3 separate regions of the Homo sapiens genome follow, and regions 1 and 2 are each reported to be linked to region 3. The links are microRNA targets in miRTarBase. Many come from high-throughput screens and were not tested one by one. Region 3 holds a microRNA gene; each other region holds the end of a gene's coding sequence. Distances are between the middles of the regions.
What was found. The annotated mature microRNA hsa-miR-548ad-3p reads GAAAACGACAAUGACUUUUGCA and lies in region 3 at 1,324-1,345, shown strand. An mRNA with a match to its seed (bases 2 to 7 or 8) in the 3' UTR can be bound and repressed. Matches are read on the target gene's strand: a 7mer-m8 pairs with bases 2 to 8, a 7mer-A1 pairs with bases 2 to 7 and ends in A, and an 8mer does both.

Region 1: miRTarBase lists ENTPD5 as a target of hsa-miR-548ad-3p. The part of its 3' UTR that is shown has no 7-base or 8-base seed match.
Region 2: the mRNA of ORC4 is a reported target of hsa-miR-548ad-3p. The part of its 3' UTR that is shown has no 7-base or 8-base seed match.

What each region holds. Positions count from the first base shown.
Region 1 is chr14:73,964,234-73,967,233 of GRCh38, forward strand. ENTPD5 (ectonucleoside triphosphate diphosphohydrolase 5 (inactive)) reads right to left here. Exons shown (of 16, transcript NM_001249.5): 16 at 1-2,781. The coding sequence ends at 2,695. Among named protein-coding and RNA genes, the nearest start is that of COQ6, 15 kb to the left of the region's middle.
Region 2 is chr2:147,932,742-147,935,741 of GRCh38, reverse strand. It overlaps ORC4 (origin recognition complex subunit 4), which reads left to right. Exons shown (of 14, transcript NM_181741.4): 14 at 44-3,000. The coding sequence ends at 232. Among named protein-coding and RNA genes, the nearest start is that of ORC4, 86 kb to the left of the region's middle.
Region 3 is chr2:35,470,130-35,473,397 of GRCh38, forward strand. It overlaps MIR548AD (microRNA 548ad), which reads left to right and starts at 1,276; the gene lies at 1,276-1,357. It also overlaps the pseudogene RNU6-1117P.

The DNA of each region.
Region 1 (3,000 bases), not on the chromosome of region 3:
TGTCACGTACCAGGCCATGTCCTAAGTATTTTAAATATGTTAACACATCTACAAAGAGGAAACTATTAGAATCTGTAGGACCTCTTAAGCCCAAAGGGTCTACTGCAGGCAGGATGGGCGTTACAGAAAAAAATAAAAACTCTCATTCCAAATTGCTCCTAAGATGGACAAATTGGTTACTTCTCCAGAAGGTCTAATCAAGGTTAACAAAATAGGTAAGTTCGTGGAGTTAGAATGCATCTTCCCTGGAGTTCAGAGGTATTTGGGATGACCAAAGGAGTCTGCTGGACAGTATGTGTGTTTTACAAAATGGCCCCCACAGTGATTAAAGACCAGAGACTTATATCTCTGCATTTGTCAAGCTGGAACAGTCTTTAGTGAACACAGCTTACCTCTTTTAAAACTGCTGGTTTCTACTGAAGGAAACATGGATGACATTTAGTGTTCTGTGACTGGTCTGGCACCCTACTTTTGTTGACAAAGATGGGAAGGGGTCTAAAAGTCATGTCACTTATAAAAGAACTTGGGAGGAACTTTTTTCAAAAGATCCAAAGATTTTGGAAGGAGAGATTAGAGCAGAACTAAGACCACTTAGAAGATAGGTAGATTTCAGCTCAATATAAGGAATTTTTTTTAATATCAGTGCAGTTCCAAATGGAATAAGCTGTTTGAACATGGCTTAGCAGAAGCTGAATGACAACCTGTTAGAAATTCTAGGGAATTCTGCACTGAGTACAACATTGGATTATTTCTTTGGGCTGTTTCCAACTCAAGATTCTGTTATTTCATTATAAGCATTTTGAGGAAGGCAGTTGGTATAAAGGTGACCTTAGTAATAAAAGTCAGTGTGAAGTCTAAAGAAATTCCACAATGAATTTAAAGACAAGAATTTTAGGGACAAGGATACAGAAATTTGCCTAGTAACTTGCACACAGCAGATGGTAAATATTTATTGACTCAATGGAGTAATGTTAAAAATAAGGTTTCCCATGGACTGTGTGAGGGCCAGGCATACTTAACATCCTTTGTGAGAGAGAGGATGGAAACGGAGTCTACTGTGAAAGCCACAAGTTTTGGGGAAATACACTCCTGCAAAGAAGCTGGAGGTTAACAACCAAGGCAAAGGGGCCAGACCACAGGGAGATCTTCCAGGTCCAAGAGCACTGCAGGGCAGATGAGAAGCAGGGATGATTATGTTGAAAGTGCAAGATAAGGCCAGGCGCGGTGTCTCATGCCTGTAATCCCAGCACTTTGGGAAGCGGGTGGATCAATTGAGATCAGGAGTTGGAAACCAGCCTGGCCAACATGGTGAAACCCCATCTCTACTACAAATACAAAAATTAGCCAGGAATGGTGGTGGGCACCTGTAATCCCAGCTCTTCAGGAGGCTGAGAACAAGAATCGCTTGAACCTGGGGGCGGAGGTTGCAGTGAGCTGAGATTGCGCCACTCCACTCTAGCCTGAGCAACAGAGCAAGACTCCATCTCAAAAAAAAGTGCAAGATAATGAATTTGGGGTAAATAATTCACAGTCAAGAGCTCTGAGCACTTGGATTCAAAAAGAGAGCATGAGGGACATTAAATATGGTTCTCCCTGGAAATGTTGGTCCACTGTACTGATGTGGGCTGAGAGAGCCAACCAAATCCAAGTGGGGTTTTGTCAGGAACGGTATTGGAAACTCTGAACTAGATAAATAATTCAAAGGATATTAGCTAAAGTGATCAGGGACCAGGACAGGAAGGTACTGTTACAAACGGAGAGAATAAAAGGGCAAACTGAAATAATAGATCCTGGAATAGCACAGACACTGACCTCTGACCACAGACCAAAAGTTAGGGCCTAGTTGTATTTCTTAGAAATACAAAGAAAACAAGTTTAGAATCATAGAAAACACTGTTAACACATTAGCCTGGGAGGTGGTACTGGCACTGAATATACACATACCCATAAAGTCGGATATGTTCATTAATCCCAGAGTTGACTGATAAAATGCTGATTAAAGCAAAGGTAGGCTATATGAGGCAGCCACACCCTCCCAAAACATGTCCCCAGAGACCGGGTGGCCTTCTTTCTTAAGGCTGTAATTTATGCACAGTTAGGAGTTACTCTCTCATCCTATTAATATTTAGGATGGCTCTCAGCTGGCTGATTGGAGCTAACACAGAATAGGATCATACAGATTCTGACATGGTCCCATTTTGCGTTGTTGAATTATACATGGAAAGCAAAACCAGGTTTTTTTTTTTCTCTCTTTTTCAGGGGAGGTGGGTGCAGATAAGGGTGGGCAGGGCACTGTATAGGGAGGAAAAAAATACTGATATTGATGGGTCTTGGGATTGCAATAAGTCAGTTTACCATTTAAGAGGAAAATTTAAATATTCAGTGGAATGAGGCACTCAAAGGGTTGAAATGCGATTTTTCTTTGGTTTCCAGGGACCTGTCCCTGGGCTCTCACTCCAAGGTTAAGTTCCAAAACTATACTTTTTGGCTCACAGGGCTCTCTGTGATGCTCTGGTGCCAGCTGTGTACTCTTGAGTGGTTAGGCAGCAGTTCACATTAGATGTGTAAAATTAATTAAACCTAAATCTCTAGGCTCAAGTCCAGGATGTCCCCAGACTAGTTCAGAAACTAAGTGCTCTCTCCTCCCCTTAAAAAGGTGTTGGCAAATGCAGGTCTCCAAGGAAGTACGTGGCCTCAATGGGAGATGCCCAGAGACTGCAACAGGTGAAAGGTGGCCCCCAAGGCCCAGCCCGTCTCTATGTTGTTCACTTTCTTTGTGAGCTGTTGAGAAGAAAAAAAGTCTTCACCTTTTCATCCAGTTTCCAACTCTAGCAAGCACAGCTCTTGGGCAGAAAATATTGGCAAAGAATATCCACATGGGCAAACCAAGGCAAAACGGACAGAAGCCAGTCTTTGCAGGCTTCCCACTACTCTGTAACAATTTCCTTCCGGCCATGGCCCATTGGCCATTGCCCCTACACCCACCATTCTCATATCTGA
Region 2 (3,000 bases), 110 Mb from region 3:
TCTCCTCTCCTATTCAACCTAAACTATTTCTTTCATCTTTCAGGCTTTTGAACACTTGCAGCAATTAGAATTAATAAAGCCCATGGAAAGAACTTCAGGAAATTCACAGAGAGAGTACCAGCTGATGAAACTGCTTTTGGATAATACTCAAATTATGAATGCTCTGCAGAAATATCCCAACTGTCCTACAGATGTGAGGCAGTGGGCAACATCCTCACTAAGCTGGTTATGAATATAACCAGTGACTTCAACTTTGGCATTTCATTCATACTTCTGTAGAGAACGGAAAACTATTGTCCATTAACATGATATGCTAAACATTCTATAAACATTCTTGTATTTATGTGAGACTTGCCCATCTACTGTCTTGGCTGTGTCTTGCCTTTTAATCATGAACAGTTACATGATTTATAATTTCACTGATTGAGATTACTTTGTAAGTAGCTGTTCAGAAGAATAAAATATGACTGTTTTAGGGACTAGACCATGTGCTTTTTTAACACTTATATATATAATGGTCTATTTGAAGAGCTCACTTCAACCTAACAGCTAGATGTCTTTACAAACCTTAAACCAAAGGAGTAAAAAAAACAATGGTAAGCACTGAAGTATAATAAGTAACCTTTGGTACAGCAGGTTTGCTGCAGTGTTTTTTTCTGTCCACATGCAAATTTTGGATTCTATCCCAGACCCAGGTTTTCTAGTTCAGAAGACTAACCAGCTTAGTCAGAAGATGGTTCCATGGAAGAAAAAGGCCAAGGAGTTTGAAGATTTTTCTTCTAGACATCTCAAAATGTGGTACTCATACCATCCACATCAGAATCCCTTGTAGGATTTTCTAAAATTACAGATTGTTGAGCCTACCATAGGTCAAAAGGACTGGAATTTTCCTTCTTAACAAGTATAGTCATGGCACCACGTAACATTTTGGTCAATGACATTGTATAAAGGGTGGTCTCATAAGATTATACCATATTTTTACTGTACCTTTTCTATGTCTAAATATACAAATGTTTTACCATTGTGTTACAGTTGCCTACAGTATGATTACAGTAACATTCTGTACAGTGCTATAGCTGAAGAGTAATAGGCTAGGCTATCTGTATAGCCTAAGTGTGTAACAGGCTATATACATATCATCAGGGTCTGTGTAAGTATACTCTGTGATGTTCATACAGTGATGAAATCACCCAAAGACACATTTCTCAGAACGTAGCCCCATCATGAAGTGACGTGACTACCAGAGATTTCTGGAAAAGCACTCCCAAAAGTAATGAGATGTGTATGGCAATGTTAACTGAACCTGTTTGTATTAAAAAGTAAATCCCTATGAGGAATGTGGAAATGTCCGTCAAAGCATTGTCTTTTAAGTAAGTTCCAAGATCCATGAATTAACAGAGGCATATATTTAAAATGAAATTTAATGAGCACTTAGTGACTTCATTTGTTCAAGAATATTTGATTTCCTATTGTGTGCATGGGAGGTTTACAAAAGACAGACTGTCCCTATGCTTGTGCAGCTTACAATCTATTTAACTATTAGAGGCCCTGTGAGATGTAGGCAGTTATTTACAGATGAGAAAACTAACACAGCAGTGGCAATGCTGGGAATGGCCAACAGGCTTGGAATTCAACTCAGTTTAGCACCAAAGCCAGTGCTATTAAGACCTGAAGTTCAACAGTGGATTCCTTACCAAATAGTTTTTAAAGTATGCTCTAAGGAACAATGTTTTAATGAAATCTTGGATACAAAGTGGAATAAAAGGTTTCTGAGCATAAAGTAGCTCTTCAGTAGTTACAACCTATTCTTTTGCATACATAGCCTTTCCTTCCCTGCAAAAAGTTAAGCCTGCTAAGTATTCAGATCCCTGTCATTTACTTCTCAGCAGTCTCATTCAAGCTAAGGCTTGCATACTCAATCTGTGCCGTAGTCTACACATTTTTAGGGGATATTTCACCAAAATACTTGACATGGTAACATCACTATTATATACTAGAAGCAAGAATTTTACACTTATGCTCTAAGTGATCCTTTTAAAAATTTTCTGAACTATTTGAGGAAAGTATTATTTGTCTTAAAGGGTAACAGCCTCATGAAATGACTTGAGGATTCCAATTTCTTATTAGCTTAAGATGTCACTTAAAAGCTGACAGCCCTCATCTGTCTCATTGGCTACATAAGAGCTGCAGAAGATCCATCAATAACCAAGTATAAAGAAAGATTTTAAGACTAAGTACCAATTGAGGTAAACATGAAACCGTTATAAAGCAAATTAAAAAAAAATACATTAGGAAAAGTTACACAAATGAAGTGTACGCCTATTATATTCCCAAGGCATTTTTGTGGGGAGGAACAGTGCTGCTTGTTGGCCTTTCCATATTCCCTCATACAAAAATGCTAAAATCTATTCGCAAGAGTTTTGAGCTAACTTCGTCTCTTAAATTGCTTTAATTGTCATCAATAAAAACAAATATGAAAAACCCTAGTTTAAAAAGCGGTTCAAGAATAATGTAAACTTATACATATAGCTTATTTTCTTCATTTACTAGAGGAGGAAAAATAGAACCAAAAAATGCATGAACTCCTGCTTTTCAATCTGATTACCTCAAACTGAAAAGCAGGTGAAAGGAGGAATATTTCAGTGTGTTTTTACATCTGAATCCAAGGGATCCAAGTGGCCCAGCAGAAACGGAATTCTTGTTAAAATGACTGATTCTCGTGCATGTGAAAGGCTCTGGGGAATGAATACCTGTTTGGTCCAAACTTACTGTATCATAATGCTGTATATGTTGAAAACGTAATACCTGTTAATGTCCTAATGAATCACGTTTTGCAGAAAACACCGTAAGAAACACTTCAGTCTTTCTGTAGTTTCCATGCATATTTCACCATGGTTCGCACTCTGATCCTCATCTGGTTTAGAAAGCAATTCAGTTTCTTTCAAACCACCATAACCTAAGTGCTGCCCCATCCTTCACCTTTACCCTAGAAAATCTGAG
Region 3 (3,268 bases):
CATGAATACAAATACTCACATTTTAAAATATATCAAATAAGTGCAGTAATTTTAAAATAATTATACTTTTTGACCAACTAGAGCTAATTTCTTAGGTTTAAAAAAGTAATTATTTTTTAAGAGATGGGTTCTCACTATGTTGCCCAGACTAGACTCAAACTCCTGGGTCTAGCAATCCTCTTGCCTCAGCCTCCCAAGCAGCTGGGACAACAGCTCTGTGCCACCACACCTAGCTATGTATTTTTTAAAAAGGTTATTTAAAACAAAATGTTACTGTAATTCAACTCTATCAACCACACCTGGAATAAAAAAATTTTCTTTCCTAAGGCACTTCCCTAATGCACTTCTACAAAAATTCGTAATGTCTCAGATCCAGTTAAAATATTTTCAACAATTGTTACTATTGATCAGCTCCTTTTGTATAGTGACGAATAAAAATTGTATTTATTTATGGTGTTCCAGATGATATTTTGCTATATCTGTCAAATCATTGTGAAATGGCTAAATCAAGCTACTTTATACATACATTACCTCACATACTTTTTTTTTTGGTAGTGAGAAATTTAAAGTGTACTCAGTAATTTGCAAGCTTATAGTAGATTGTTGTTAACTATAGTTATCATACTATACAATAGAATGCTTGAACTTATCTCTTCCAGCTGAGATTTTGTATCCTTTGACTAACATCTTGCTAGACCAATCCCCTAGCTTCTGGAAACCACCATTTTGCTTCTGTGGGTTCAACTTTTTTGGATTCCATATATAAGTGATATTATGTGGTATTTGTCTTTGTGTTCCTGACATTTCTCTCAACGTAGGTTTTCCACGTTTATTTATGTTGTCATCAGGAACAAGATTTCCTTCTTTTTTATGGCTGAAGGGTTTTCCATTGTGTGTATACAGTACATTTTCTTTTTTCATTGACCCAACATTTACCATGCTGAGAGAAGAAAGCAACTCCTCTGTTTAATGAATGGAATCCTCTAAAAACTTCAATACACATATATGAACTTTCAGAAGCATTCTCATTAAATTGGGAAAAACAGAAGGATGCCCTCTTTCACAGTGTCTACCCAGCATCATCTTCAGGATCTAGCCAATACAATAAATCGAAAGGAAAATTTATATATAGTTAATAAATAACCTAAACATATATTTTACAGAAAATATAATTTTTATTCCAAGAGTCAATGTACTCAGTTGCGGTAAAGCAAAGTTACAAGAATTCTATAAGGATCCAGGATCAAAACACAACAATTTTCACATACGTGTCAACTGTTAGGTTGGTGCAAAAGTAATTGTGGTTTTTGAAAGTAACTTGGCGAAAACGACAATGACTTTTGCACCAATCTAATACAATCAACAGTTGTGGGAAGAATTTTAACTTTTCACTCTATGTTTGTACTGTTTTAGTGTCTATGTGCATGTATGTTGTAGTTTATATGTAGGTATTACTCACGTAAAAAATTAGTTTGGTGCTTGCTTCAGCAGCATATATACTAAAATTGGAATAATATAGAGATTAGCATGGCCCCTGTGCAAGGATGACATGCAAATTCATGAAGCGTTCCATATTTTTCCCATGAGATAATTGTCTTCAGTGTCCTGGAGGCCCTCGAGGTGGGCCGGTTGGTAGAATGAGAGGCCCTCCCAGTGGAGGCATGGTGCAGAAACCAGGATTTGGAGCGGGAAGGGGGATTGCTCCACAGCAGTCAATATTCATGGATCTTCAGGCAGCCATACAAATCCTAGTTCCTACAGAATGGTGAATTTCTTCAACCAGCCATCGTGGAGTATGGCCCCAGTCTGTTAACTGCTTAACTTTGTGTGTTTTAAAAAACAGTCAACCTGGCTGCTGTGTGGAGAACAAATATAAGGAGAAAAAATGAAGGCAAAGGGATTTTAGATGGCTGGTTTAGAAGCCTATGAATTGGACTAAAGTGAAGGAAGACATGAAGATAGAGACAAGTGGGTGTATTTTACTTTAAAATTAGAATTGACATATTTTACTTATATGAGTGGTAAGCATGAATGAGTTATTAAGGATAACTCACATATCAAAAGGGAAACAATGGCATGGATGTTAAGGTTATCAGGTAGGCACAACCCTGAATACAGAGTTGTGATGCACTGAGGAGAAAACTAGGAATATCCTAAATATTTGGGAGTAGTTGACACACAGAGAGAAGGCAGAGCACAATCGGAGGGTTGAGAAATAGACATGGGGAAAACCAACTCTTCTTTTGTGATATGGACTAATGAGGGAAGCATGGCTACAGATGTGTCATGTTCAACAATGTACCCATTCTATGTGGGTACCCATAGAAGCCATACACATTAGAAACAAAGATGTTAACTGGTTAGAAGTACAGGTTTTGGAGGCAGACATGTCTGCTACCAGTATCAACATTGCTGCTTAATATCTGGGTTAGTGACTTGGGGCAACTTATTTAATCTCTCTAAGCGTTTGTTTCTTCATCTTTATTGAGAAGAATAATGCCGGTAGTATTTCCCTCATTATAAGCTTGTGAAGATCGCTAAATATATCACATGAACACGACAAATTATGGTCACTGATGCATAGGTAATACTCAGTGAAGGTTTTCTATGACTATTAGAGTTCTGTATGTTATTATTATGCAAGAAATCCACAAATGGTTATTAGTGTCCATTAAACCGTACATTATGAAACATAAATAAAACTATATCATATGTTTAACATTGTGCTTGGCCCCATTGAGAAAGTATAATAATAAATAAATTAATACTAATTTAATAGTAGTAAATTACATTTGAATGAATTGGAAAAGTAGAATAGTGCTGAGTAATTCAGGCTTAAAAACTTCCTATTCCATGATAACTCATTAAGTTAAAGACAACATATAAAATATTTACACACCTATTCCCAGGTGAGAGGCTGGTAATTTTATTAAAAATTTTAAGATTTTCTGGATAATGCATGAATGATGAGGAAACTTTTTTTTCTATTTGGATATAAATTTGGTTTCTTTTTATAATAAAATTTCAATATGTCCTATTGTCTTTTTTGTCTTAGCTAAATGGATTACTTCTATTTATAATTCCTCCAGAAATCAGTGAACTTTATCTTGAGAAATGAAAGATCAAATAGATGATATAGAGAAACAACTCTTTTACCTTCAAATAGGAAATGTAAACTGATAGGAGTCATTGTATTCCAGTCTTCTGGTCTGGAATAACAGTAACTAAATTCATTTGGTTTGTTACACATAAAAAAAGGAACAACTAG